Linked DNA regions of Homo sapiens. The protein of the gene in region 1 interacts with the protein of each later gene in a pairwise test. Each region holds a gene or a part of one and is shown in the gene's direction. Other genes may lie near its edges.

Region 1 (7,020 bases):
TGATAAATTTAGGTGAACTTCATAGGCACATTTGGACATATCTGGAGAAGATTGTCTCATAAATGAATGACATGTCAAGGTTGTGCCACTTGGTTTATAAAATGGTTATTTCTCAAGGTGTGGCATGCTGACAAACTTTATTTTAGTAGTTTTAGTGTTTAGTGTTGTATTAGAAAAATTGATTCGTCGTTTAGTGTTATATTAGGAAAATATAACAATATATTAAGCCCCTGATTTCCAGGGATCATGAATTTACAGAAAAATATTAATTAGTTGTAAGGATGAAGTGAAAGTGCAGATGATTGAAGTTTGGGAAAGCGTAGATCATATGATCTCAGAGGCCCCATCTAGTTCTAATATTCCAGAAGAATAAGAGAGTGTCATTCTGTTTTCATTTCTTCCCAACCCTCCCTCCGCTGTGCTGGCACCTCTTGTCCATTGGCACTTTACAGTTTCTGTGTATTTGCTGGAGCCTTTAAAAACTCACATTTATATGATGGTTGTTAGAAGAAATTGTTTACAATTAGAGTTCTTTCTTTTAGTAGTTTGGAGAAATCACAAGGAAGTCCCATCCATGTTCAGAGATCATCTCCCTGAAATCTAGTTTCCAAAGAAGAAATCAGCATTTTGCTCTTGCAGATAATAATATGATCACCACTTACTGTTTTTTCCTGTTTTCTTTCAGTTCAACCCAGTAATCCACTGGGAATTCACTCTATGTCCCACTGTAGCGATTTATTTTTGGCCAGAGCCTAAAAGAATCTTGTGTTTCTTAAATTCGTAAATACAGTTACGGTGAAGCAAAATAATTAGGTTCCTGAGATCAGATGCTCCAGCTTTATGGCAACTAGTTTGTGGGAATGTGTGACATTGAGGACACCAAGACAGAAGGGACCTAGACTAAGATGCACCTGCACCACCCTGGTAATGTCTCAAATCTTATTCCACAGTGCTGTGCCTTTGGAAGCTGAGTGGTTGTACCTTCCTGTCATTCCTCTAGAGTACTCAAGAACAGGTGATTTTCCTGGTATCCTTTAATCTTCACGTAACTCCCAGCAGACGTACACCCTGTCTCTCTCCTGGACTGTAAGCATTTTTGAGGACAGGGAACATATTTTGTGCTTTGTGCTTAATAAGTGTTAACTGAATAGAATTTCAGTACAATGAGGAATAAAATTATAGGAATTAGAGTATAAGAAGTAAATTACTAAAGGATCTCATATACTTGAGGAACTTTCCCCTGATCAAATTCTTTGAGAGGAACTTTCCCCTGATCAAATTCTTTTTTTGAGACCGAGTCTCGCCCTGTTGCCCAGGCTGGAGTGCAGTGACGCGATCTCGGCTCACTGCAGCGATCTTGGCTCACTGCAGCCTCCACCTACCGGGTTCAAGCAATTCTCTGCCTCAGTCTCCTGAGTAGCTGGGATTACAGGTGCCCGCCACCACACCCAGCTAATTTTTGTATGTTTAGTAGAGACGGGGTTTCACCATCTTGCCCAGGCTGGTCTTGAACTCCTGACCTTGTGATCCACACGCCTCAGCCTCCCAAAATGTTGGGATTACATGCATGAGCCACCGTGCCTGGTCTTCGAATTCTTTTAAAGGTTCCTGGATACCATCGCTAATACTCTCTTGCCTTCTTGTCTGTTTTGGCAAGAGACTTTCTGGAAGGATCCTTTCTTTTCCTTTGATAGTATCTCTTCCTATTATTCATCATTAACAATGCCAGATCACCAAGAGCTAGTTGTCTTTTTTCTCTTTAAAAAATTTAATAGTGTTTGCATGCATTTAAAAAACATGTAGTACTGAATGACCTATAATGGAACCCCTAATTCAGCCCCCGGAGGCAGCCTTCAGTTCTGTTAGATGGTTCTTCTGGTCTGCCTTTCCATATTTCCAAATAATATGCTTATTTTCTTGATTTATCAATTTTCTACATTACCTGTTTTTTTTTGTTTTGTTTTGTTTTTTTTGAGACGGAGTCTCTGTCGCCCAGGCTGGAGTGCAGTGGCTTGATCTTGGCTTACTGCAACCTTCACCTCCCGTGTTCAAGCAATTATTGTGCCTCAGCCTCCTGAGTAGCTGGGCTTACAGGCGAGTGCCACCACGCCCGGCTAATTTTTGTATTTTTAGTTAAGACAGGGTTTCACCAAGTTGGCCAAGTTGGTCCTGAACTCCTAACCTCAAGTCATCTGCCCACCTCGGCCTCCCAGAGTGCTGGGATTACAGGCGTGAGCCACGGTGCCTGTTCTACCTGGTAACTTCTTATGGAAGCTGGGAGTGAAGTTCTCTTTCATATTCCCTCTCTCCTACTGTTCTCTTTCTCTTATCCTTCCACTGTAGTCGAATCACAATTTTTGGTTAAAAGTAGTTAGCTTTCACATTGTAATGATCAAGTAAATTTTGTTCATTAATGAGTGAACAAATTCTGTCTCTGCCCACATGTACCTAAAATTAATAATGGACGTATGTTTTCATTTCCTTCATTTTCTACATACCTGTCTTTTTCTCCCCCGCAACGATCCATCTGATATCAGACATCTGTTAACGTTTTTGTAATGCTCAAACACCTCTCATAATCTATCAGTTTGATTTTTTAATTCTGAAAACCTCCCTTCAGCCACTCTGATCCCTTCTGCTCCAACCTGGACTGGGTATTCTCTAGGCCTGGTGCAAACTCATTCTCTTGGAACTTCTCTTTGCTTCTCTTCTTTGTTGGGTCCTCTGTTTCCAGCATCCTGTGTCTTCCTTTTTCTTGCATTACTCCTTCCTTTGCTGAAGCTTACTAAGAAGGGTGCATAGCAGGTATATTGTCTTGGAATGAATGACACTATCTATATGACAGGCTCCCATTTGATGATTTGGCTAGGTACAGAATTCTAGGAGGAAAATGATTATCTGTTAGAACTTTTAAAGTATTTCCCACTAGCTTTTAGCATCCAGTGTATTGTTGTGAAATCTAATGCCATTTTGATTCCTGTTCCATTACAAGAAACCTTTTTTTTTAAAAGGCTACGGGATTCTCTATTTATTTTGAAATTCTGAAACTTTACAATAATTGTGCTAGATACTTGGTAAGCCATTTCAATCTCAAAATGTGTGACCTTTAATTCTAGGAATGTTAATTGTATTATTTCCTTAATAATTTTCTCCTCACCAGGTGCTGTGGCTCACGCCTATAATCCCAGTACTTTGGGAGGCTGAGGCAGGTGGATCACCTGATCTCATGTGTTCAAGACCAGCCTGACCAATATGGTGAAACCCCATCTCTACTAAAAATACAAAAATTAGCCGGGCGTGGTGGCGCACGCCTGTAGTCTCAGCTACTTGGGAGGCTGAGATAGGAGAATCGCTTGAATCTAGGAGGCTGACGTTGCAGTCAACCAAGATTGCGCCACTGCACTCCAGCCTGGGTGACAAAGCAAGACTCCATCTCAAATAACAACAACAACAAAAACAAAACAAAACAAAACAACAATAATTTTCTCCTCGTGCTTTCTCTGTTCCTTCTGCAACTCTTATTGGTCACATGTTGGACTTCCAGGATTAACTTTCTAATTTTCTAATCTTTTCTTTTTACTTTCCATCTTGATCTTTTTTCCCATTCTGAGAAATTTTCTTGACATTAGTTTACAACATTTCTATTTATTTATTTATTTATTTTTTGAGACAGGGTCTTGCTCTGTCGCCCAGGCTGGAGTGCAGTGGCATGATCTTGGCTCACTGCAACCTCTGCCTCCTAGGTTCAAGCAATTCTCCTGCCTCAGCCTCCTGAATAGCTGGGACTACAGGCGTGTGCCACCACGCCCAGCTAATTTTGTGTATTTTTAGTAGAGATGGGATTTCACCGTCTTAGCCAGGATGGTCTTGATTTCCTGACCTTGTGATCTCCCCACGTTGGCCTCCCAAAGTGCTGGGATTACAGGCGTGAGCCATCACACCTGGCCTCTATTTAAATAATTTTTATTTTTAGCTATCAAAGTTTTAATTTACAATAGTTCTTTCTGGTTCTCTGGTTGTCTTTTTTTCACAGTATACTCTTCTTGTTTTATGGACACAATCTCTTCTAATACTCATTTTGTTGATATGGTCTCATGTTAAAAAAAAGTTTTCTTCTGCCACCTGCCTTGTTGCTGCCTCCTAAGTTTTTGTTTGTGGACTTTTTGGCTCTTTTTCTTGTTAGAGCTTTTAGCAAATATCTGATGATTCCTGGCTGTCCTTTCATATTTAAGCTTAAGTGGGGCTCATTGACTAAGGATCTTCATATTAAGGTTCCCAGATAGTGAGTCTTTTAATTAGCGTTTCCCAAGGTCAGTATCTGAAGGCTTTTCTCTGGACTGTTCTGTGTATCCAGAGTACCCCTCTTTTTCCTATGAGGATGCCAATATGCTTGGTACTCTGGGGGCTGAGTGGGGGAAGGAGGCTGACAGTTCGATAATTTGGTATGTACACTTGTACTTAATCCCCATTTTCAGCCCCAAGATTAACCCAGTTCCACGTGTCTAGATTTCCTGAGTCAGAAATCTGTGTGGTTCAATTTCTCCAGAGAATAAATCCTTGCTCTTCTGTGAGTGTGCTTGGGTGTTGAACACTTGGATGCATAAGGTGGGAGGAGCCGTGGGGTCCTACTTGTTTTCAGTCCTGTACCTCCTTACTTTCCACTATCGGGTACTTCCAAGCACTGAACCTCTCAGGTTCTGTTGGGAAAGTGGCTTGCCTCTCAGCAGTACCTCCTTTGCAGGCCCTTGGTTTGCCTCAACGCTGGCAAGTCAGTTACCGCTGTTGCTCCTTTCCTGTTCTCTTTGACCTTGCAGATTAGTACCCTTTTCATTTTCTTACTGTTATTCTACAAGAGACTCAGGAAGGAGATAGGTGCCAACTTGAATGATCAGTCTCCCTTTTACATTACAGGCTGAACCTCCTCAGAAGAGCAACTGGAGATAGAAGCATGAATCTTTTATCCATACGTTCCGCCAGGCTCGAGAGGTCCAGCAGGTAACTGCCAAAGGTGGAAACTGTTCACACTTGCCTCCCATCCTGCCTGCAGAAAACCCAGACTGCATTCAGTGTCCTCAGTGTAGCCACCACTTTGCTCCCAAGGTGGCTGAGCAACACATTCCCAAGTGTAAGACCATCAAGAACTGTCTTCCACCTCTAAGGAAGCATTATAGTTGAGCAGACAACAATGGAAACTTTTGGATAGTTCAGAAAGCTCTGCTTCTCTTCAGCAGTAAATGGGAGTAGAATTTGATGCAAAGCAGAAAGAAATCAAACAGCTCCCAGATCTGCCTGCAGAGCTAAAATCTGTGAGGAGAGAGCCACTGCTAAGCAGCAGGAGGCAGAAGGAAGCCCCAGCTTCCCACTAAATTACAACCTTGGGCTGGTATGCTTTATGTTATTGCCCTCAGAATTGATGGGTGAAGACACTGAAGAGTCATGAGCAGGCTCCATTAAAGCTCTTTTCTTGCATGCCTGACTTGTGGTTTGTGCTAGTTAAGTGCCTGCATCTGGTTCTGCCTTCTTGTCACTGCATGTATGTTCAGAGTTCCTGTTAACTCTTGCTTTTGTAGAAGCTGGAGTTATTAGGATGTGTTGGTGTCAGAGGGGCATGATCACCCAGATAGTAACTCTTATAAAAGATAATACAATTTTGCTATAAGGCATTATTAATGGAAATCTATCCTTGGTCTCCCTGGTGCATAAGCCTGGCCAAAACCCAATACAAGTATGTAAGGTTAAGGCACCAATGTCTCCTAAACCTTCCCTATGGTGTACTGTGTAATAAAGGAAAGATCTTTATGTACTTTACAGGGTAGGGATGGGTGTTGGGGGGGAAACACATTATACTTCTCTCTACTTGTTCTTTTCTAATGGGTTTCATATGTTAAGAAAGAAACCTCCATTTTAGCTGTTAGTAGCACTCTACTTTCAAATCGGTTTGGCTAAATGACTGTTTAGAGGCAGCAAAATCTACCATCAAAGCAAGCTGAGACAGGCTGGTCATGGTGGCTCATTCCTATAATTCCAGCACTTTGGGAGGCTGAAGTGGGAGGATTGCTTGAGGCCAGGAGTTCAAGAGCGGCCTCGACAACAAAGCAAGACCCCATCTCAAAACAAAACAAAGCTGGGACACTGCACAGTGTCACATGCCCTTGGCAATTATAGCATAGTCAACTTCTATTTCAGAGAGTAAACTTTGAAGGGAAAGGGATCAAATCTTTTTAATTTTCTCTGTGTAGAATATTGCCTAGCACAAGTTAGACCTTCAATTAGTGAGGTCTGGAGATTTAAAATTAAACAAGAAGATGAGTGAGTCCTACACTAGTGAAATCAGAGAACTGATAAGTTAATGTCTGCGAGAGTATTATCAGTTCAGATAGGAGTGAAGTTAGCACAACAGATAGAAATCTTAGGATTACTGTTCTGTATTACTCAAATTGTTAGTTTAAAATACTGGAGAAAAACTGCTCAATTTGAGCTAGTCAACAGGGCTAGACAGACAACAAAATCCTATTTTACTAAGTAACAAATGGCCACTCACTCTTGCTCCATTTCCACTGCACTCCAGCCTGGTGACCTAGTGAGACTCCATCTCAAAAAAAAAAAAAAAAAAAAGAAAAAAAAATTGGGCTAACAGATCAGACCAATTTGAAATGTGAGTTAAGGCTTTAGCGGTGAAGCTGCAGGACACAGGCTGGGAAAAAATCCTATATATTTAAATAGGAGCACACATTTCTTTGCACTCTTTTTAATTGTTCCAAAGGAAAGGAGGTATCACATAATAAAGCTTTATGGTTAGCCCCTTAAGGAAACCTCACACAGAGATAATGGATATTTAACCTAATAGGTACATTCCCTAGGCAAGTTCAATGAAATGTACACTTTAAGTGGGAATGTAAACCAGTACATTGCAATAGATGGCAAGAGTAAGCTGTGGCCAAGGTCACAAAATGGCAACATGTGGATTGCTTTGCTCCACAGATGTTTTATTTCGCTGGCCTAGCATTCATAATATGATCT
Region 2 (7,741 bases), on another chromosome or scaffold:
AAATCAAACTGCTGAATTATCTAACACATTTATGATCAAAATATTGGGCAGTTTTGTAGAAGCATGAGAAAAAGCAGCAATGGATATTATGAAAACAAAACACATGAAGGGGAGAAAAAGGAGATAATAAATAATTCCAGGAATAAACAAAAAGCTATATAAGGAACTAACCATATATATTACTTGGCTTAACAGTGAATAATACTTTACGTAGATGTTATAATGCCAACATGAAACTTTGAAATAACCAACAATTCTGACATATTAATATTGAGAACACAAGGGAAGGGGACAGGCATTAGACATATGAAGGTCAGAAGTTCAAGACCAGCCTGGCCAACATGGCTAAACCCTATTTCTACTAAAAAATACAAAAATTAGCCAGGCATGGTGGCACACACCTGTAGTCTCAGCTACTCGGGAGGCTTAGGCAGGTGAATCTATTGAACCTGGGAGAGGTTGCAGTGAGCCGAGATGGCGCAATGCACCCCAGTCTGGGTGACAGCAAGACTCCGTCTCAAAATAAATAAATAAGTAGATAAATAAACAGAGAACTCAATAAACAGGAATAAAAACATGTTATTTAGAAATCTGGAAGTAAATATGACAACTACTAAAAAATGGAAGTTTGCTTGGGGGTGCTGGGTGTAGGGAAAGCCTAGAATGGGGATAGCTGTTTTCATATGACTTGGCATTTTAACACTATATGCAAATCCTAGAGTGATTTAAAAAATTAGTCATTTTTTTAAAAAGTATTACCACATTTAGATAATTTACAAATGGCCACAGCTCAAAATCTAACCATACCTCCTGTAAATTTTGGTCTTCTTGAGTCCAAGAATTTAAAACATGTGCTCCAGAGTCACTCACAATAAAATTCACCTAATAGATTCCAAAGAAACAATTAGTATTCAACTCTAATTTCACTCAATCACCAACATATTTTCAAGTAATATGCAATTTGTAACACTGTTTCACTGATTCATTCATTCTTCTTTTTATAGTTACAGAATGTGTAGTATATGCCAGGTGCTATTGCTGGCACTGAGTACATGGGAATAGAGTGATGAATAAAAAAGTTCTGTCACTCACAATGTGGGGAAAGTCAGGGGAGGGGAGTCTACTAGGACAGAAGGCACTGCGGGAAGAATACAAACAAATAAATGAACAAGATAATTTCAGAGAGTGATAAACGCTATGAAAAATAAGTTAATTAGCTACTTTAGATTAGGTGGTTACAGAAGGACTCTCCATAGAAGTGGCAACTGAAGGCAATCCAAAACCAGCCACCGTAAAGTCAGGGATAGACAATCTGGGTACGGCAAATAACAAATGCAAAGGCATCTAAGCATATACCCTGGAAAGGGTGAAAGTCAGAGCAGGCAGTGGGAGAGGAGACAAACTCAGAGAAAGAGGCAGGAGCTGGATCATATAGGGCACCGAAAGCCAAAATAATGGATATGGTCTTTACGCTAAGTTTTAAAGTAAAATGCAAATTTGAAAATTTAAAATTACCTGCTATCAGGTAAGATAATGACAAAGAACATTTTGGAAAACTTATCAAATGATGATTCTGACCCATGTTCCTTTTTGGCTAGAGGGTTAGATTTCTTTCTTTACTCTGGACAACACGATCTAATCTATGATCTTTTTCCCTATATATCGATGAAATACCAGTTTTCCTTCCTCCCCCAAGAAGTTTGATAATTGGTCTTCTCTTCCAAGGCTTATCTGACAGGGATATATTTTACAAGTCACTTTACGTAGATTTATCTCTTTTAAAGCTTACATCGAGGAAGTAAGTGTTATACTTACACGGGAGGAAACTGAGGCTTGGAGAGATTAAGAAATATGATCAAAGTCACACAGCTAGTAGTTAACCACGCCAAGGTCTGAACCGAAGCCTGCGCTCCAAATCAGTTACATTCCCTCTCATTATATATTTTTATCACACACAGAATGCACACAAATTTTAAGAAGGGCTTATATTTTAATTTGGAATATATGTGAATGTATAATATCAGACTATGTTCACCTTTACTCTACTGCCCTACCTTCCTCAGTCTAAGAATTGGCTAGGTCCCAGCGCTTCGAGTAAGACAGAAAGCAAGTCTTCCACTTGTGGCTAAACAAATGACTTTCCCAAAATAAGACATTTAAGATACTGAAATCTAAGATTAAACTTTAATACCTGTAATTTCTGTCAATCATCCATTTCTCTTCTTACTGATAAACCATATCCACTTAGCATTCTTAAAAGTATTTCTTTCTAATATGGCCAAACAATACAGCAGTTTAGTATATATTTGCTAAAATTGCAAGCAGCTAGCCAGCTTAGGTTCAAATTCTGGCTCTGCCTCTACGTAACTATGTGACTCAGGACAAGTTTCTTCTCTTTACCTCAGTTTCCGGATCTGCAACAGGGAAGCAACAAACAAGACTGACAGTCAGCTGCTACATGCCAGCACAGTTTGACAGCAGCTCTCAATGGTCAGTCTGTGTTCTATACTGGTTGTTACATACTTTGAATATTGCTTCAATAACTACAGTTCCTACCTAACATGACTGTTATGAGAATTACGGAAATTAATAAATATGAAGCACTTTGAAATATGTCTGGCACATGTAAAGTGCTCAATAATTGTTAGCTGTTATTATTACTGGCCCCAATTAAATATCCATTATATATTAATCCCAAAGGGCAGCGTTATGTACCACATTTTTAAGTAATAAACACACAGTCATTATCTATAGCAAATTCATATAAAAATTCATTTATGCAGTTAAGTACATCCCCAAAATCATGATTTTGTTTGTACTTCACACTCACCAGCTTTTTGAAAGGAAATATATCATACATTATTCTACAATATTCCATGGAAGATTCTACTGAGCAAGTCCACAATGATTTAGATATGGGGGCCAAAGGAATGATTCCTTGGGTTCTATTCTTCACCAGCATATCAAACTCGACATGCTGCCTGCAAGATTCTGCCATATAAGGGCAGTGATCCACAACAAACACTGTTTTATGAGATTCAGAAAAAATCTTCATTTTGTTTTAACCTGTAAGGGGAAAAACATATTAGCCAAATATTTGTACATAACATCTTACATTTTTTCTAATTTTCTCAAGAAGATTGTCTTTCCCTCAAGAAGACTTGGTAGGGAACATGAATAATATGTTCAAAGAAATCTGTCCGACAAAGGACAGTTTAATGAGGTCATGACCAGAAAGCAAGGGTATCAATACACCATATTAGGCTGTCACTCTACCAGGCCCAGACAAAAATACCAGTGCATGCATTTTTGGTTTTGCTTTTAAAATGAACTTAAAATTGTCAGAGGGAAACATTTTGACATTTAATTGTATTTGATTCCCTTACATATACGAAACATAAGTGACAAAGACTCTTGAAATACAACTTTATGATCCTTGCTAATTGACATTAGTCACATATAAACCCCAAGCCAGCATTTTTGCACTTCCCTCCAAGAAAAACGTTTGAAGGGGGACTGGCGGGTAGGGGTGCGGAATTAACAGGAAAGAGGAGTGACAGCAAAAGAAAAGGCCAAAACAAAGATAAACATCTCCTAAGATAACCGCACATCAGGTCTTCGCCTTAGGATAAGGACCCCAACTTCACACTCTCCCCTTAGCTTTTGAAACATCACAGTAATTTACCAGGTAGAGCAGAAAAACTTAGTTGTTACCATCACACTGGTGTGTAGAAGGAAATTTAAAACTTTTAAAACTTTTTCTTATTAAAACAGAGCATACGGTACTCCCCTGCTTCGCTAACAAAATCTTATACTGAATAGACAATCCACATTCGAAAAGCACATGGCAAGCAAAGCCAAAGTGTTAAATCAAAACGAACTGATTTCTTACGATCCAGCTATTTTCACCTCTTGCTTTCAAGACGCATCTCCCCTTCATGCAAAACTCTCTTTGAGAAACCTTCTAGACCCACTTTGCTGGAGGGTGGGGGGTGGAAAATACAAGGTGAGTGGATAGGGAAGACCTCAGGATCGAGGTTCGCTTACTTTCGTGCCTGGTCCTGCAGTGAAAACGAACAGAGGCTATGGACCACAGCCTCTCTGGAAAAGGCTGCTGGCTGGGCGGGGAGAGTCAGCGCACAGTCGGGAGTGTCTGGTGCCACAGACAGGGGACTATGCTTTCCCCGATCATCTCCTAGCACACCGGTCCTTCCCAGGCTTCCTAAGAGCAGGAGCGCGCGTGCGCGTGCACACACACACACGCACTCGGGCTCGCGCGTGCGCACAGCGCTCTCCGATAGCCCGGCCAAGCCTCCCTTCCCCCTCGTAGGGCCAGGCGTCCCAGTCGCCGAACAGGAAGAGGGCGGGGCCAAGGAGGAAAAAAAAAGCCTCCACCCCTCGAGATTTTCCACCCGCTAATTTTCCCAGTCACCCATTGGGAAGCAGGATCTGGGCGACCTGAAAGCCTCCCCAACAGCGAAGTACCAACCACGGCCCCCTAAGCGTACGACCCACCCACCCGGTCTCCCCTTCTCTGTCTCTCCACCCAGGCCGGTTTCCCCTGGAAAAACTCGCGAGACTTTGCGAGAGGCCGAGCGAAAGCCTGGGAAGGGAGGAATAGGGAGGGACATAGAAGGGCCCCGCCCTGCCTTCTGGGGCAAAGCGGAGAGTGGTCGGTTCTGCCCCACAGTAACGCGAGGAAAGAAATCTCGCGAGGCTGGAGTTCTCCGGGAGCGCCGGTCGGAGGCGGTCGGCGGAGGTGTCTACCCCGCCGGTGATGGCGTTGAACGCCACTGGCTTCCCGGCCTTCCGTCCGCTGCCTCCGTCCGATTCTGCGTCTGCTTGCTGAGGAGGCGGATTAGGGGGGCGCGGAGTCTCTTCCCTTGAGTGCATAGGTCCCGGTTGGTAGAGGGTTTGAGTCCGCATCGCCACAGCTGAAGGCTGCGAGGGACTAAGAGCAGAGTAAGTGGACTAAATCCAGGGACGGGAGCAGGGGTGGGCGAGTCGGAGGCGTCCTTTGCCGGGGCAGTCCTTCGCCGGGGCCGGTGCCTTGCGCCTCTTGAACCACCGGCGCCCGGCCCTGTCCGCTTCCCGCCGCGGGCTCCCTGCTCCTGGGAGCCGGACTTCCTCTCCGCGCCCCCCGACTCCGAGCTCCTCTTAATGGAGATGCGGTGCGGAAAGTTCAATGAAAAGCCTTGGCTCTAACCCTGTGGACACACCTTCCGTATCTGCTTTCATCCTGCCTTACCCACCTGCGAGTTCACCACCGGACGGGGGACCCTTTCAGTCACCTGTTTGCAGCGTTTAATGAAGATAACTTGTTTCTTGAAACTGCTCTCCAAGGGGTATTACTCTTTTCTGGTTCTCTTCCTGCCTTTCTTCTCTATCCCATCTCTGATAATGGTTCCAGTATCTGTCCTGCTATCCGAACTAGAAAACCAGGAATCATCATTGGTTCTTCATTTCCACTTAACACTGCACTGTATTATTTTTTTTTTCGCCAGAATTAGTGCGGTTGCCCCCTCTGCCCCCCGCCCTCCACTGGTTTCCCTACTATAATCCTTCCATAGAGTTATTCTGAAATACATATTTATCTCTGTCCTTTCCTTAAACTTTTTAGTAACCGTATTGCTGACAGCATCAAATCCTAATTGTTAAGCACATCATCATTCAGGATCTTTTACAGTCTGCCCCAATCCATTTTACCTTTTAGTCCTGCTTTAATATCCTACCATACAAGACTATACTGGCTATTTCCCCAAACATGCCATGCGCTTTGACAGCTCTGTACTTTTGTACGTGCGGATGTCTAGGATGTTTACTGTTCCTCTATTTTACCACCTGTCAAAACCCAATTCATAAATCATTGTCTTCTCAGACTCCCCCAGGTGACATTGATACCGCTGTGCTCCCAACGCATTTGAAACTTTTCTTCTGCAGTATTTATTAGGTTGTATTATTTGTTTCTGTCTCTCCTGCCAATTTGAACCTGGGTCTGTCTGGAATCATGTCTTACTCATCTCTGAGAAAAAGTCCAGTACTTGGCACATAGCAAGCATTATTTATATATACATATGTATGTTTATTGAAATGGAATAGTTCTAAGGAATTCACCGTAAGAGTTCTTCATCCTTTAAAATCATAGAATTTTGGGCCAGAAGGAACTCTGTACATTAGCTTAAAGGTCCCGACCTATTTTGATTATGAGAAACCCTGTACTTCTAATACACATGCAATTGGACTTTTAGTAATTGTTGGTTGAAATTATGTATAATGACAGAAAACTACTATGCTTTTAAATGATTTTGTATTTTATTTTTACAGTATCTATTTATATTTGAGAAATGGAGCAGAAATGTTTTAGACTACAGACAGTGCTTGGAGTATGTGCATTCAGGCAACTCTTCTACTGACTCCTTAGCCTGTAGGTTAGAAATAACTGGTTTAGATTAGGTTAGTTCCTTCTTGAACTGTCACAACTCTTTGAACATATGTATGTGAAACTTATATTCAGCCACAATTCTAAGGGAACGTGTAATTTTAAAAAAATCCTCCAGTGTCATTACTTCCAAAATCTTTCTTCCAAGTTTAAAAATTAATTTTCTTCAGAAAGTGTCTTTATACAGTTCCAAACATGTATTCATTCCACTATTTTCAAGGACAGTGAAAATTTTCTTTGCTTTCACATACAGCGATGTGCCTTTATAAATGCTTATTTTTATATGTAATTTATATGCGTTCTTTCTTGCATTCATAAGATTATAAGTTTATATGAAAACCATAACTATACCTTTTGGTTTTTTTATTTCCATATGGGTCAGTTCATATTATGTACTAATTAATATTAGAGACACATACCTGAACATGAAAAAATTTAAACTAGATTGTTGACATTTAAAGACAGATCTGTGGTGTATCAGTAGCCACAATATTTCTGTGTAGATGTAGTGGTAGGAGTAGTGGATTTGCAGATAAGGGAAACAGAAGTGTCCAATCAGTAAACATTCATTGATCTTACAATTAATGTGATGCCTAATTAAAATGGTTGCTAGGCTTTTATTAATTACCTAGAAAATATTTGAAATTTTTTTCGTCTTTAATTTCTCTTACATTTCATTTATATTCCTATTTATTTTCTGAGGTTGGCTTGAAAATTTTGACTTGAATTTCCTTAAATTTTTCTTAACCAAAATCTAAAAGTAAACAGCTGGCAGTTGCTGTCTTGGGTGGGTGGTGGTTTCTCTTTTATCAGCAGCAGAATGTTCTAAGCCTTCTGCCAGGAGTCTGACTGCAAAAGTCTTTGGGTGGTAAAGTGGGCGAGAATGTGACTAATGCAGAAAAGAAAAAAAAATTTTTTAACTTGCTAAAAAAAAAAAGAGATTCACCTGTAATTTGGACCCGCCTATAGAAAATAATGTAAGTAAGTGTATTATGGCCAGTTAAGGTAGGCACTATAAAAATAGGCCGAAAAGTTTAGAATATTCCTTTTTTACTGTAGTCTGTTTTTTAAAATTTGAAACTTGTTAGAGAGTTTGGAAAACAGTCTTCTTCCTCCCACTCCACTTCCTGGCCAAAAAAGAGGGGAAGCACAATGGTCTTCAAAAAAGGTGATAAAGTAAATGCATATTATAAAATATTTTAAACTTTTGTGTGTGTGGTTTCACGTACAGGAAATGAACATGCAAATTCTTAGAAACTGTTGTCACTGTGTTTCTGAAATGCTAAAAAAAATTATGCTTTG
Region 3 (7,936 bases), on another chromosome or scaffold:
GGTAAAATTTCACCAAGTTTCTAGAAACTGGTGAAAGAGCAGTGTCACCTCTTCCTCCTACCTCCACTCCATGTTCCAGGTCAAACTGTGGACTCAGTAGGTTGTCCTAGGGTTAGGCACAAGAAGGAAAGGATTTATTTTAGGACCACCCAGAAATTCATTCACCTCACAGAACTTCCTGTGCCTAGGTCAGTGGGTCTTTATCAGCTTTGGATGGGTCATTTGGCCCAGTGCCTGGAAGAACTGAAACAAAAAACAGTCTATGAGACTGAACTAGACTTAACTAAGAACTGACAAATCTCGAACCAAGCTTGGATAAAAAAACTACGTGGGAAGTGAGACAGGCACAGCCTCATCCTGGGGGGATTTGGGAGGATGTGGAGGGAAATGACTGGGGGGCACTTGTGGAGCTCAATCTCTGTGATTAGTGTGACATTTTCAAGGAAAGGACATGAGGCCAGGATTAGGCTCAGGAGTGAGAAAGCAACAAGACCTGGGAGAAGGGGAACTGGGTTCAGGGAGGTCGGCTACTAAAGTATTAAACCTGGAGGAAGAGCTGAAAGGAAAAGTAAAGTGCATCTCTTTGGAGAAAAGTGGGCTTTTGCTCAAGACTCCCCACAAACTTGAAGTCCCATGTGGATTGGCATGACCCAAGGCCCAAATCACTTTTTTTTTTTTTTTTTTGAGATGAGTCTCACTCTATCACCCAGTCTGGAGTGCAGTGATGCGATCTCAGCTCATTGTAACCTCTGCCTCTCAGGTTCAAGTGATTCTCCTGCCTCAGCCTCCTGGGTAGCTGGGATTACAGGAGTGTGCCACCACACCCGGGTAATTTTTGTATTTTTAGTAGAAACAGGATTTCACCATGCTGGCCAGGCTGGTCTCCAACTCCTGACCTCAAGTGATCCGCCTGCCTCGGCCTCCAAAAGTGCTGGGATTACAGGCGTGAGCCACTGTGCCAGGCCCCAAATCATATTATTCCCCCTTTTTCCCTCCCAATATTCAGTCCTCTGACAGAGAGGCTAGACATAAAATGCTCCTTATTGCTGGTGCCCACGGCTGTCCTGACCCTGGTCATGAACTCTTGCTCAGTCAGTGAAGCTGAATGAATGAGTTCATTGCCATGTAGGGCCAATTGGCACTAGATGCTTGGAAATTACCCACCTTGGAGAGGTTGTAAAATAGATCATGTCCTAGTGCCACCAGCAACTTAGCTTTCTGGGGGGTCAGGAACTCTTACCAATTGCTTTGGAAATTTATGGCTGCCTGCCAGTACCACCACCAGCATGTCACTGCCACCATCACCACTACCACTGCACTCTAACTTTAGGCTCCATTGCACCCTGCTTGCCCACTCAAGCCAGCAAGGGGAAGCATCCTCCCTGGTGAACTCAGAGCCACTGATATGTTTGTGATTTCACAAACATTCATGACAGCTCCTAGGTCTCGTCTCCTAATTACATAAAGGCAAATGAAATGCAACCTACTGCAACTATATTTCAAAGCCAACATTTTTCACTGGATACACTTAAATTATACAATAGATTTTTGAATTTCAGAGGGTAGGAGAGGGAATGGGTAACAATTGGGCAGTGACAAGATGGCTGGGGTGACTTTTCAGGTTGCCAGAGGCTTCCTAAGGGTGAAGAGAGGGAGAAGAGCAGAGAGAGAAAACCCATAGCAGCAGCTGGGGCAATCTGGAGGGGAAGTGGGTTGGCTTCCTGCCAGGGCCAGAGCCAGAGCCTAGAGACCAGGGACAAAGCTGCAACCTTCCACCGAAAACTTCTTTGAAATCGGGATCTCCTGTGAACATTTCCTTCAAATCTCCCTGTGTGCTGATCCCCAGGGCTCTAAGGGGCAACTACAAATTTCCATTTCTGTTTGTTCCAGCATTTACTTTCACCAACCACCACCCCCCTTTTTTTTTTCTGAATCAGTCTCACTCTGTTGCACAGGCTAGAGTGCAGTGGCGTGATCTTGGCTCACTGCAGCCTCCGCCTCCTGGGCTCAAGTGATTTTCGTGCCTCAGCCTCCTGAGTAGCTGGGATTACAGGCACACACCACCACACTGGCTAATTCTTGTATTTTTAGTAGAGACAGGCTTTCGCCATGTTGGCCAGGATGGTCTCGAACTCTTGACCTTATGGGATCCACCCACCACGGCCTCCCAAAGTGCTGGGATTACAGGCATGAGCCATCGTGCCTGGCCTAATTTTTGTATTTTTAGTAGAGATGGGGTTTCACCATTTGGCCGGGCTGGTCTCAAACTCCTGACCTCAAGTGCTCTTCCCACCTCAGCCACCCAAAGTGCTAGGATTACAGGCGTGAGGCACCACACCCCGCCTGACCCTGTCTTTTCACAAACATTTCTCTTAGCCATCAAGGTCACATTCTGGGTCATAGGACATCAGAGGCAAGATGGTTCAGAGTTACATTGATGATTTGATGGCATTCATTCTCATGGCTTCCACCTATTGCCCTGCACATGTTGGAAGAATCAGTGGCCCACCATTGCTAACAATCCTAGACACTGGTTTCCACTAGGATGTGTTACTCTCATCTTAAATTCAGTATCTTCAAACTACGATCACTTTTCTTTCCTCCAAACCTGCTCTCTTCCCGACTTCCCCATCCTGGCTCAAATGCTGGAATCTTCCCTCGTGTCTCCCTTCATCTGGTCCCTCATTACTCAGGCAGTCACCAAGCCTCATTACTCAGGCAGTCACAAAGTTCCCTGCCTATCCATGGTCACTGTCACCACCAGAGCCCAAGTCTGCATCACTTTGCAATGTAGAATTTGGAAGGGACTTTAGATGACACATAGACTCCCAGTGGTGTCATGGGATTTGCTGGGTCATAGTGACAGGAGGAGCTGGGGCTACATTGCCTGTGTTCTGACACCGTATTCAGCGCTCTCACCCACAATACCTTCTTTCGTGTATGTGTATATGCTTCTACTCAAAAACTTGCAATACAACCTCATAACCAGTCATTTGAGCCTCTCCCTAATTTGTCCACAATCTACCTCTCTGAATTTCGGTCCCATTTTTTCCTGACACAAAAAAAAGAGCTAACATTGATTGAGCATTTACCATTTGCCAGACACTGTTCTAGAATGCTTTACATGCACTGACTTACTTAATCCTCACAAAGTGGGATGGAGAGTCCTGTTATTCCTGTGTTACAGCTGAGGAGACTGAGGCAGACCGCTCTTCCTGAGCCTGAAATCTCTCTCCTTGCCTTGTCTCTGTTCTTGACTCCTGCCCCCCACCCCCGCCCCCACCCCAATGCTGTTCAGCTTTTGTCTTTTCCAGCCTCTCCTCTGACTGTCTCCAGCAGCCAGCTGTCTTTTCCCTCCTCCTAGCTGGAACACACATCATCCCTCTGTCCTGCCCCTTGGCACTTTTTCTGTCCTGGCTTGTGACGGTTCTCTGTTTGGGGGCTTGTGTCCCATTCTCCAACAACCTCAGTTGCTCCTTAGTGGACAGCGTCTGGGTCTTACCTATGCCTTTGCTACCTGGGCACCTCCGCAGTGCCTGGCACACAGCATTCTCCTGTCTCCTTTCTGTCTAGTGCTTCTGTTTCTTTCTCCCAAGCATCCCACCAGCTGGAGACCCTGGTCAAGAGCTGCGGGTCAGATGGTGACGGGGACCAAGCTTTTAGATCAAGGTGGCGCAGGTGGAACTTTCAGGTCAGGCTGACGGCTCTTTGCCTGTCACTGAGAGCTATCAGACTTGCCTCCAGGCCAGGGACTGACTTCCTTTGGTGCTCTAAAGATAGGTCCCGATTTACCTCACCCCCACCCTCATCCAGTTATGGCCTGACCATCACCAAAACAAGCCCAGGACCCATTTTCATTTATCCCTTTAAGAAAGGTTCTTTCTCTTCCTGCCCACGTGCCCTCTACCGCTTGACAGAAGCCTGCTCCCCATTGCCAGGTGCTTTTCTTCCTCCTCCTCTTCTTCTTTTTTTTTTTTGAGACAGAGTCTCGCTCTGCCGCCCAGGCTGGAGTGCAGTGGTGTGATCTTGGCTCACTGCAACCTCCTCCTCCCGGGTTCAAGCGATTATCCTGCCTCAGCCTCCTGAGTAGCTGGGATTACAGGCGTGTGCCAACATGCCTGGCTAATTTTTGTATTTTTAGTAGAGATGGGGTTTCACCATGTTGGTCAGGCTGGTCTCGAACTCCTGACCTTGTGATCTGCCCACCTCAGCCTCCCAAAGAGCTGGGATTACAGGCGTGAGCCACCACACAAGGCCCTTTCTTCCTCTTCTGTCATCTGTGGATTTCCCATCTGCCTCAGTGGAGTCCTTGACCTTTTCCTCCCTGGCCCAGCAGCACATTCTCCTCTCCTCCTTTCTCCCAAGTCACTGACCTAGTATTTAGTGTGTGTTCTCAGCCTCACCATTGACTTGCTGTGTTACCTTGGACAAGTCACTCTCCCACTCTGACCTCAATTTTCACATCTCTAAAAGGAGACTGCTAGACTAGACGGTGAGTGAAGTCCTGCTGAGCCCTCCGAGTTCATTCTCCCTTGTCCAGTCAGTCCTTCCCTCCCACCCTCCCCTCTGGGCTCCCTCTCTGGGGCCCTCTCCCCCAGGGGAGGCCTGCTCCAGCCCCAGGGGAGCTGCGGCCCTGGCTCCTGTTCCCAGTCGGAGTGACCAGCCCTGGGCCTCCTTCCCAGCTTCGGCCCTGGCTCCATGTGGCCCATCTGAGAGGCTGGCCTCAAGCCCGGCGGCAACTCCACATTTCTGTTTTTCCTTTTTTTTCCCTCTTTCCCGGAGTTAACAAGAAGCAGATGTGGCGCACGATGGTTGGAGAGGTGGGGGGAGGAAGGGGGAGGCCGGACCGCCAGCCAGACAGGGGGGAAGGGAGGGGAGCCAGCAGGGAGGAGGAGGCCAGGGCCCGCCCCACAGCCACTCTCGCGCCTCCGAACAGCCACAGGGGCAAAGCCCTGTCACCCCCAGGATCCGGTCATCAGGGAAAGAGGACAGGGAGACCAGAAGAGGGCCAGCTGGGACGAGGGGGCGGACGCCCAGGAGGCAACTTCTGAGACGCAGCTCCTGAGAGGGGCAGGGACCAGGCGCGGGAGGCCAGAGGGGGCACAGAGAACAAACCCCCTCAGAAGTGAAGAGGAGAGCGGAAGGAACCGAGAGGGGACGGACAGGAGCTGAGGAGGAAAGAGGAGGGGAGAGGGGTCAGGCCAGGCAGCCAAGGAGAAGACGTGTGGCCGGGGGCTATCAGAAGGAAACTGGGACGGACGGGCCGGGCTCGGGCTGTCCTGTGGAGCAGCAGCATCCCCGGGGCCGGCAGAGGCGCCAGTGGCTGGGCGGGATGAGTCTCTGAGGGCCACTGTGGAGCGCCCCGCCATGGCCCCCCGCACCCTCTGGAGCTGCTACCTCTGCTGCCTGCTGACGGCAGCTGCAGGGGCCGCCAGCTACCCTCCTCGAGGTTTCAGCCTCTACACAGGTTCCAGTGGGGCCCTCAGCCCCGGGGGGCCCCAGGCCCAGATTGCCCCCCGGCCAGCCAGCCGCCACAGGTAAGAGTCTGGATCCCAGCCCGAGGCTTGGGTGGTGAGGAAGGGGTCAGAATGCCACCTCTGCCTGGCTCTCTGCTGTGTCCGCTAATGCAGGGCAGAGGGGGAGTGAGAAGCCCATCCATCAGGTGGCTCCTCACATGCCCACCTTCCCACGGGGCCTTTTCCAGGACCCCCTGAACACATATGTTCCTTGGGTCACCTAGGGGGTCCGCTCCCACATGCCCCAGGGAAGCTGCCCTGAGGGGAGCGGGCCAGGCCTTCCTGCCAGCTGCCCTCTGTATCCTAGCCCCAGAGCCTCAGGGAGAACTTTTGTCCCCTTCTAGGGCTCCCTTGACCCCATCCAGTAATCCATAATTCTGACACCACTCCAGCTCTGTTCCCTCCAGCCCTCCAGCCAGACACAGATCAGAGGCCGGAGTGAATGGGGCCAGGAGTATAGAACTGCAATCCCCAAGAGGGGCAGGCTCATCAATGGCTTATTCTCTACTTAACCCCAAGCTGGCCTGCCCGTCTTCTCCTGGAGGGGTGGGGTGGAAGCCAGTGTTCAGATCACCCACAGGGCCCGGGCTGGCTATGCGCACACAGCATGCCAATCTGGGGACTGAGACAGGCCCAGAAAGGGACACACATGATTGTGTACATTCAGAGGCTCCCCGGGACCCCACCACCATGAGGATTGACTGCTCTGTGGTTTTCCATTCTGCGCGTCTCCCCATCTTGAAAAGTCTTTATCTGCTCCTGCTACACAGGAAAGCGTGGGGGATAGGGAGGGTGGCGATGCCAAAGCCCTTGCTCTCACTGATCCCCAAGGGTTCTGCATCTTTGGAGCCTTCTTCAGCCCCTCTGGTAGCCCCTGGGCCCTCCTCCAGGGCATGTATCTTTGGTCCTTGGACCCAGAGGGGGTTGTACCTACAGGAACTGGTGTGCCTACGTGGTGACCCGGACAGTGAGCTGTGTCCTTGAGGATGGAGTGGAGACATATGTCAAGTACCAGCCTTGTGCCTGGGGCCAGCCCCAGTGTCCCCAAAGCATCATGTGAGTCCCAGGGCCGGGCAACGGGCCCTTGGTGGGAACTGGGCGAGGGCAGATGGTGGGTGGCTGACTCAGGGAGTCTGTATGAAGCAGGGAGCAAGGGCAGGACAGGGGCTAGGGTCACAGCCATTTTGAGGAGATACTGAGACAACAGTTTGGCTGGTGGGAGACTGAGGGCAAACCTGCCTCACGCGCCAGCCCCAGATGCCTTCTCTGGGATGGCTCAGGCTCAAGCAGAGGAGTTCAAGGTTCCAGCACAGGGCAAGGGAAGGAAGAGCAGGGATTTAACCCTTGGCCAAAAAGCTGACAGCTGTCAGCTAAGCAAGGCCACATGTTGGACAGTAAGAGGGACCCAGCCTGAGGGACAGGCCATGCCCACCAGCAGCTGCCCACCCCTGAGGACAGGGACCAGGGTCACTGACCGTACAGGGAGGAATAAAGAGGCCTCCTTCTGCCTCTGCCAGGTACCGCCGCTTCCTCCGCCCTCGCTACCGTGTGGCCTACAAGACAGTGACCGACATGGAGTGGAGGTGCTGTCAGGGTTATGGGGGCGATGACTGTGCTGAGAGTCCCGCTCCAGCGCTGGGGCCTGCGTCTTCCACACCACGGCCCCTGGCCCGGCCTGCCCGCCCCAACCTCTCTGGCTCCAGTGCAGGCAGCCCCCTCAGTGGACTGGGGGGAGAAGGTGAGTGTGGGAGCTGCTGCGAGGGTGGCAAGTTCCAAATGGTGATCCAATGCAATGGGAAATGTGGGGCCAGGCTGCTGGGGGAGTCCCCCGTGCTCTATGCCAGAGAGAAGAGAGGGGCAGAAGGGTTAGTGAGATCGCAGAGATTCCCTGCCCGTGTGTGTGTGTGTGTGTGTGTGTGTGTGTGTGTGTGTGTATTTGTGTGTCTGTGTGAGAGAGAGGGAGAGAGCACGCAAAAGATGGAGAGACTGAGAAAAAGAAGGCCAAAAAAGAGAAGGTGCTCGCACACGCCCCATGTGGCCAAGATCCTTCAAACAGCTGCAGGAGAAAGGGGCATTCCTTTGAGAAGCTTGGTCCGTGGGGACAGACAGTTGAGACTACAAATCCTAGCATGCATTGCACCTGACTACAGATCCCAGACCCCTCCGTGGCCTCTGGAGACCGCAGGTCCCAGCATGCAGCAGTTCCTGTGGCTTGCCTTCCCTCCTGCGTGCTGCACACCGGATGTGCTGTTTCCCTGCCCCGAGATAGCCTTACTATAATTATGCAAACAGGAACTCCTGGCCAACTCTCACCGTCCACAGAGCCTCTTCTTTGTCCCCGTGGTGTTGCAGGGAAGTGTCACCCAGTGGTAGCTACTGTTGTGGCATCCAGAGTGCCTCCCTACACTCCCATTTCGCCC
Region 4 (7,708 bases), on another chromosome or scaffold:
GCCTTGTGTTTAAGGAAAAATAATTGATGTGTGAATGGAATCAATCACCTATTGACGGGAAGGGTGTCAGGATGATGTAGGGTGATATGCCTTTAATTGGATAAAGAGAACTGTATTAAGTATAACTAATTTAATAACTGATTGAAGCACCATTCTTAATTTTAAAATATTTTTGTTAATTTCTTTTGTGGTTTTAAAAATTAATAATTTTTTTTTTTTTGAGATGGAGTTTTGCTCGTTGCCCAGGCTGGAATGCAATGGCGCGATCTCAGCTCACTGCAACCTCCGCCTCCTGGGTTCAAGAGATTCTCCTGCCTCAGCCTCCCAAGTAGCTGGGATTACAGGCGTGTGCCACCACGACCAGCTAATTTTGTATTTTTAGTAGAGATGGGGTTTCACCATGTTGGCCAGGTTGGTCTCGAACTCCTGACCTCAAGTGATCCACCCGCCTCGGCCTCCCAAAGTGCTGGGATTACAGGTGTGAGCCACTGTGGCCGGCCTAAAAAAAATTCTTTTTAATAGTTATCAGACTACTTTAACCAGTGCCATGTTTAAACATACTTGGACAATAGACTCAGTTTTTTTAATAGTTTGAAGTACATTATATTAAAACTACAAACTCACTTATTCAAGCCTAAATTTCATCATAGACTATAAATTGGGTATCAATTTCCTATTTTGGTGGACAATTCCAGTCTGTCTACTACGACAATCATCTTTTTAGGTGTAATATTGTTTAAGACATAGGTAATTTTAGGTTTTATACTTTTCTCCTAGGCTTATGGAATGAAAGCTAATAGGATATCACTTTCAGAATGAAATAGGGAATTATGGCTAGCCTTCTTATAGGGCTGCCGTAAATGATACTTAAATGTTTGTTATATCACTGATTTTCTTTTCTCTTCTGAAGCTGTTGTGAATGTCCACTTTGCCATGATTAAAAGTTGAGATTTGTAAACATTACAATTTGAACCATAAATTTTCTCAAACATGAAATCAGTATGAATAAGTATAAAATTTGAAATGATCATACATGAGAATCCCAAAAGTAAATACTTCCAAACCATAGAGGGATAACCACTGTATTTTTAAAAAGCTTATTTCCACCCTTAAAGAAGCATGCTACTAATTGCTTTTTTTCTAAATTAAAACTATGTACTGTGGTAAATTAAAAATCTGCAGGAAAAATTGCTTAGTGTTTTAGCACAATAAGAATTTTTATTACTCAGGAGTTGGAGACCAGTCTGGGCAATACAGTGAAACCCTGTCGCTACTAAAATACAAAAAAAAAAAAAAAAAAAAAAAAATTAGCCAGGCATGGTGGTGTGCGCCTGTAATCCCAGCTACTTGGGAGGCTGAGGCAGGAGAACTGCTTGTAACCTGGGAGGCGGAGGTTGCAGTGAGCCGAGATCGTGCCATTGCACTCCAGTCTGGGTGACAGAGCAAGACTCATTCTCAAAAAAAAAAAAAAAAGGAATTTTTATTACTATTTCCTGAAGAATGGTTTTTGTTAACTTGTTACTGTATCATTAAAAAGACCTTCTAATGGTTCAGTACAATAATCTAGAACTTGATTTATGTGGCTTTTTATAGTTATCTGAATGCATTCCTTTTGCCACATAGACCATATGGCTAGTTCTCCAACTTTTTTGCTTATTTTTAATAAACCTTGCTGTTCAACAATCAGAGAAACCTTTAGATTTTGGATGATTCTTCCAGTTGAGGTAGAAACATCTTAGATAATAGGAAAGGCAAATACAAAGTCCTAACATTTTCATAGTAGAGTTTACAAGTAAAATAACTTATCCATATAGGTTATCTTCGTTGTGTAGCACCAGTATAAATAGTGATTTCATTAATCATTGAATCAGATGAAGCAGTTATAAATCACTTTTTACTTTGTGCTAAGAATTATTGTAATTTCAGGACACTTTATTATTTCCTCTGAGCAGTTTCCATTGGAAGGTTGAGTTTCCCTTTTTTAAGTTCTAATCATCACTAAAGGTTAAGATAATCAAATAGGAGTTAAAATAAGTTATGTTTGATCTTTTTCCCTTGAAAATAATGCTGAACTTATTGTCTACATTCTGATTATTAGGCAGAAATGCACTTGTTTAAATCATAGAAGTAATTCATTTGGAGGATATAATTACTCGATTTTCTAGTGGTGTGAAATACTTTTTAACAATTGTGCTTGTCTGTAACTGAAATGTTATAGAATTTTAACACTATAGGGATTATAGAGTTATATTAGCTCTCCTCAAGAGACTGAAGCACAATATTTTTCATGTAACAATTCTTATCCAAGTGCTGCTAATCTGTCGTGCAAATAATGAAGCTATTTGGTTGCCTATTTAGCTATTCACAAATCACTGTAATCTTTGAAACAATCTTGTCGTTCATTTGTATTAATATTTGGATATTGTGAGTTAATACTTTAGAAAAAAATCCATCAACTCAGCCCCGTTAGCAAAACTGTTTGGATTCATAGTTTTTATATGTGTTAACAGTAGAATAAATTTTGAAGGGGCTATTTACTACCAATGACTAAGGGGAAAATTATACTGTCACTATCATTTGACTTGAACATTTGTGGTATTGTAAAAGTCTTGTCAGTTGTGTTCTAAATTGCTTAAGCCATACGTTCTCTTAAACAGGATGTTTTTTTCTTCCTTTCCAGCAGCCTTTTTCTTCTTTGTCTGTTATGGTTAATACTCCATAGATTTTAGAAATTGAGAAGTTCTTGAAACATTTTATTTTCTTGAGTTCATCACTTTTGACTCTTGTATGAGATGTGATTTGTCATAAAAGATAGCCTTCCACTACTTCACTAAATGAATTTCAGAGTAAACACTGTGATTCTGCAGAGCGGATTCAGTAGGCTTTCCAATGTTTTCTCCTGCTATACAGTGCCTACCACCTTGAGGGCACTTCAGTACTAGAGGATGAAAACTGAAACGTTGTTTTGATGTTTATTGAATAACGAGATTAGAGAATATTTGATTTTTGTTGTCAGTGTATTAAAGAAATTTTCACATTGATAAATGTTCTCTAGGAATGTGTCTACATTCATCAGGTGTGAACTCTTGTACATGAATTTTGTACCTTGAATCCACATATATATTAAGTGTATCATCAATATAAAAATAAACATTATTTGCTTAAAGTTTTTGGTACTTTTTCGGTATTGACAGCTGAACTGTTAGGGTTTGCTTCATTCAAATATCTCAGAGGCTTTGAACTATCTTGGGGTTGATGCTTCTTGTTAGTTTGTCAATGTTTGAATCCTGGTTTTGGTTTTTTCCCTGCCCTGCTCCTGCAGGTCAGAACTGGAACACGCGAGGGAAGGGACTGTTGAAGAATTGGGTGGAATCTGCTTATTCTTGGGCTTGTGTTGAGTCTGGGGATGGAACCAGAGTTCCTTAAGGTGGAATGGCTGGCTTGGCATTGACGAGTTCAGGGACCTGACTTAGGGTACTGATTTGGACCGTGACTTTTTGTTTGAGATAGAGTTTCGCTCTTGTTGCCCAGGCTGGAGTGCAATGGCGCGATCTTGACTCACTGCAACCTACACCTCCCGGGTTCAAGCGATTATCCTGCCTCAGCCTCCCAAGTAATTGGGATTACAGGCATGGGCCACCATGCCCGGCTAATTTTGTATTTTTAGTAGAGACGAGGTTTCGCTATGTTAGGCTGGTCTGAACTCCTGACCTCGGGTGAACCACCCGCCTCGGCTTCTCAAAGTGTGGGGATTACAGGAGTGAGCCACCGCGCCCGGCCTGGACTGTGACTTGGAACAAGATAGTTTTTCCTCTTTTGTTTATTTTCCTACTGCCTGCATGATTGCTATTTATTTAAAGAGACGGAGTCTCGCCACGGTGCCCAGGCTGGTCTGGAAGCCCTGGTCTCAAGAGATCCTCCCACCTCGGTCTTCCGAGTAGCTGGGACCACAGAAGCGCGCGCCGTGCACTTTTGATGTTTTCAACTTCCTTCCTAAGCAGAAAGGAGACGGCCCAGCAGCGGATGGTGAAGCTAATCCAATATAGTGAGCTGCCACCAGCGTTTTTAAGTGCATTACATAGTAAGAACGTGGTTCTGCTGGACGTTATGTACTCGGTTGCGATATAAAACGCATCATCTACAGTAGGTGACAGGCGCCAAAGTCTAAAAACTGGTCTCAAGGTGTAAGGTCCCAGGACTAGTTTCTGGAGCTACTGGCTTGTGAGTGAAGCTGGAGGCGCAGACTTCCCGGGTCACACGGTGGCAAGGCAGCTGCCTAGGGTGCGGCGGGACCGGGCGGCGCGGGGGGGCGCCTGGCCAAGCAGTGCAGCCCCGGCCGGGTTTGTAGCCAGCACAGCACAGCGGGGCCTGTGGCACCGACTGGGTTCTTTTACTTTTGACACGAAGCCCCTCCCACTTACCACGCTCTGCACGCGCCCCTGTTAAAATAGAAAAAGACCGAGAGGCCTCGGAGACTCAGTCATCATCTGTGGCTCTGGCCGCTCGCTGACGTGGCGAACTGGGCTGAGGGAGCGCCCGGCTGGGCACCCGAGAACTCCAGCCGTTCCGGCCCAGTCGCCGCTCAGAGGTGGTAACAGTAGCCGCCAAGGCCGCGCACGGGCGCATGCGCGCGTCGGACCAACCCCCTCCCCCCACCGCGCAGTCACTTCCGGCGCGCTGGGAGACGTGCGGTTCCGGGTCGCTGCTCGGCTCGCCGGCTGGGCGGTGGGGGTTGGTGACGCGGGCCGGGGCTCACGAGAGGCCCGGGAGGCGGGGCTTTGCTGGCTTCCCAGAGAGAGGCAGGTGCGCGGGCCAGGACTCCGGGAATGCGAGCAGGCCCCTTATTCTCCCAGTGGCCTCGGTCTGTCCCCACAGCGGCCCGGTCAGGGTTGCCCGAGCCCCAAGGCGGGGGGCGGCACCGGGGTGCTGAAAGGGTGAGAGTGGGGGCGGAGGCGGGCTGCCCCGGCCTGGGAGTCTGGAGCCTAGGGTTCCGGGATTCCTCCCTGCGCGACCTTGGACAAGTCGCTCCTCCTCTCTAGGGCTCAGTTTCCTTGCTGTCAAATGGGAGAGATGTTGGATCCTTCCTTTCTTTGACAGTCCAAAGCACGGGCGGGGCTGGAGGTAGCCTGAGGGAGTGAGATCCAAACTGCCGTGGCAGGCACCTGCCTGCCTCCCTGGGGGTTAGACATCTGTCTTTACCCAATTTTGCCTTGCTTTTTGTCAGTGCACATCCGTGACCAGACGCCCAGGGTCTGGCCGGGTAAACAGTATGTGAGTGTAGTAATCAACTGAGAAATAAATACTGGCTCCAGGAAAACTTAACCTCATTCAAATTGTTTTGCTCAGGGCTCCCAGGGAGAAGTGAATTTAGGCACCCGCTGCGGTGATCAATTCTGTTCTATGCGCTTGTAAGTGAAGCTCTTAGGCAAAAAACAATTTCATAGGAGATCAGGGTTAGGGAGGGTATCCCATTGAGAGTTGTGACAGGTTTTCTTACCCCCTTTAATCCTTCTTCTGCCCCTCCTCTTCCTTCACTTCTTCCCCCTATCCCCACCCAACATTTTGGCCATACACTTGAAAAGAAATACCCAATGCATTTTATCTTTGTCTTCATGCAGGACAGAATGCTTTGACCTCCAAGCTGTTTTAAATCTAGTAGATAAGCCAGGTGAGTAAGTGGTTTACACACATTGAAAGTAAAGTTTCTGAAGAATTGTACAGCCTTAATGGAGGATCTGAAGTGGTAAGATGGCATTTGTGTATCTCAGAGCAGAGCTTAGGTATCCTCCACAAAACATGGAAAGTTAAGGTTGGAACCAGAATATTAGTGTTTTATACACCATTAGGAGGAAAAGGTTTTTGAATCTTACTTTGAATATCATGTCAAACATTCTTAAGAAAAGAAACTGTGAGGCCGGGCGCAGTGGCTTATGCCTGTAATCCCAGCACTTTGGGAGGCCAATGCAGGTGGATCATCTGAGGTCAAGAGTTTGAGACCAGCCTGACCAACACGGAGAAACCTCGTCTCTACTAAAAATATAAAATAAGCCGGGCATAGTGGCGCATTCCTGTAATCCCAGCTACTCGGGAGGCTGAGGCAGGAGAATCGCTTGAACCCAGGAGGTGGAGGTTGCGGTGAGCCGAGATAGTGCCATTGCATTCCAGCTTAGGCAACAAGAGCGAAACTCCATCTCAAAAAAAAAAAAAAAAAAAAAAAAAAAAAGAAAGAAAGAAAATAAACTCATTGGAGGTAATTTTATCAAACTCAAAACCACACAGCGTCTCTAGAAAATGTTCAAGGATATCAGATACTTATATAATAGAGTTGTCTGGTGTGTCTTCTTTTTTCTGTTACCAGCTTTTCCTATTGGACAGTTGATTGCAAACCATCCTGAAACAGTAGGATATTACACCTTTTACATATTGAATTACATATTGAATATTGAATTACATATGAATTGAATTACATGCATTTTTGTCTTCAACTTAAAGAACACTAAACTGTAGTTAAGCTTATTGGAGGAAGGATTTGAAATCATTAAGTCATGAATATATGATGTTGATGTCTGCTCTGGGACATTTTACCAAGTGTGTTATATGTCATAGCCAACATGTAATTAAAAAAAAAAAACGTAGAGATTTGTGAATCAGAGTCCTCTGTTCAAATACCAGCCCTTCCACTTAGCCACACAATCTTTGGTAGGTTACTTCATCTTCTTGAGACTGGGTTTCTTCATCTGTATATGCATATGAAGCACCTGAGTGCTTTTTAAATGTTTAGTAATTGTGTTCTATAAGTGTACATGTAAGTTATGAAACTTAGTTTTGAAATCTAAAACTTAACAACTCAGATGCGAAATCTTTCCAATGTTTAACTTTTGAACTGTCTCTTTCATCTGATTTGTAGATCCTGTGTTGCCATAAGCCCTTGGCCCACATTTAAGTGGGAATGCAGCTAGCTTGGATGTCTGAAACTTTGTAGGCGCCTCTGTCTGAATCCTGAACACAGGCACCAGGACTACTGAGAGCTCGTCATCTGTGCAGGATAGCCACACAGCAAACATGTTTGCAAAACTGAAGAAGAAAATTGCAGAAGAGACTGCTGTTGCTCAGAGGCCAGGAGGTGCTACTAGGATCCCACGGTCTGTGAGCAAGGAATCAGTTGCCTCAATGGGAGCTGACTCAGGAGATGACTTTGTAAGTACCTTTACTTAAGAAATAAAGATACTTTTGCAGGGTATTCTTCCAATAAATATTTTAAATTGCTTGATTATTTCATACCTTTCATGGTTTATAGCTGTACAAGAGCCTGTACATCTGATTCTTCTTACTCTGAGGTACCTTTTTGTTAATGTTTGGTTTGTAAATGTTAAGGTACTCTATATTTTTTTCCTTATTTTTCTGTGAGTTCCTCTCCATATTCTCTCCAGTGTCCTCTTGTACTGTTTTTCCGTCTATATACCTTATACATCTTCTTTTGCATTTCATTTCTGAAAATGTCTGGGCCTGTTTTCATTGCAGACATATATACTTATATAACAACTAAGTCATTGCTGCTTAACAAGGTCTCTGAGTTGTGGTATGGGGTTAGCAAGAGTGCATTGTTGTATTGGGACGATTGTTGGAAAGATGGCCCCAGTGATTACAGTATGTTGCTTTTTTTCTTTTTTCTTTCTTTTTTTTTTTTTTTTGAGATGGATTCTCGCTC

What was found.
Region 2: the proteins of ZC2HC1C (region 1) and FGFR1OP2 interact in binary tests that used the Homo sapiens proteins (3 or more experiments, as listed by UniProt).
Region 3: the proteins of ZC2HC1C (region 1) and EMILIN1 interact in binary tests that used the Homo sapiens proteins (3 or more experiments, as listed by UniProt).
Region 4: the proteins of ZC2HC1C (region 1) and GOLGA1 interact in binary tests that used the Homo sapiens proteins (3 or more experiments, as listed by UniProt).

Annotation. Positions count from the first base shown.
Region 1 is NC_000014.9:75,072,621-75,079,640, forward strand, and holds part of ZC2HC1C (zinc finger C2HC domain-containing protein 1C), read left to right. Parts: intron 1-4,911; coding exon 4,912-4,944; 3' UTR 4,945-7,020.
Region 2 is NC_000012.12:26,933,749-26,941,489, forward strand, and holds the start of FGFR1OP2 (FGFR1 oncogene partner 2), read left to right. Parts: upstream 1-4,721; 5' UTR 4,722-4,962; intron 4,963-7,741. Other genes in the region: INTS13 (integrator complex subunit 13), read right to left, coding at 808-882, 2,831-3,055. UniProt on the Homo sapiens protein: May be involved in wound healing pathway.
Region 3 is NC_000002.12:27,073,699-27,081,634, forward strand, and holds the start of EMILIN1 (EMILIN-1 precursor), read left to right. Parts: upstream 1-4,916; 5' UTR 4,917-5,367; coding exon 5,368-5,537; intron 5,538-6,452; coding exon 6,453-6,572; intron 6,573-7,033; coding exon 7,034-7,254; intron 7,255-7,936. UniProt on the Homo sapiens protein: Involved in elastic and collagen fibers formation. It is required for EFEMP2 deposition into the extracellular matrix, and collagen network assembly and cross-linking via protein-lysine 6-oxidase/LOX activity.
Region 4 is NC_000009.12:124,938,066-124,945,773, reverse strand, and holds the start of GOLGA1 (golgin subfamily A member 1), read left to right. Parts: upstream 1-4,690; 5' UTR 4,691-4,803; exon of another isoform or gene 4,804-4,934; intron 4,935-4,968; exon of another isoform or gene 4,969-5,408; intron 5,409-5,618; 5' UTR 5,619-5,668; intron 5,669-6,907; 5' UTR 6,908-7,062; coding exon 7,063-7,197; intron 7,198-7,708. UniProt on the Homo sapiens protein: Involved in vesicular trafficking at the Golgi apparatus level. Involved in endosome-to-Golgi trafficking. Mechanistically, captures transport vesicles arriving from endosomes via the protein TBC1D23.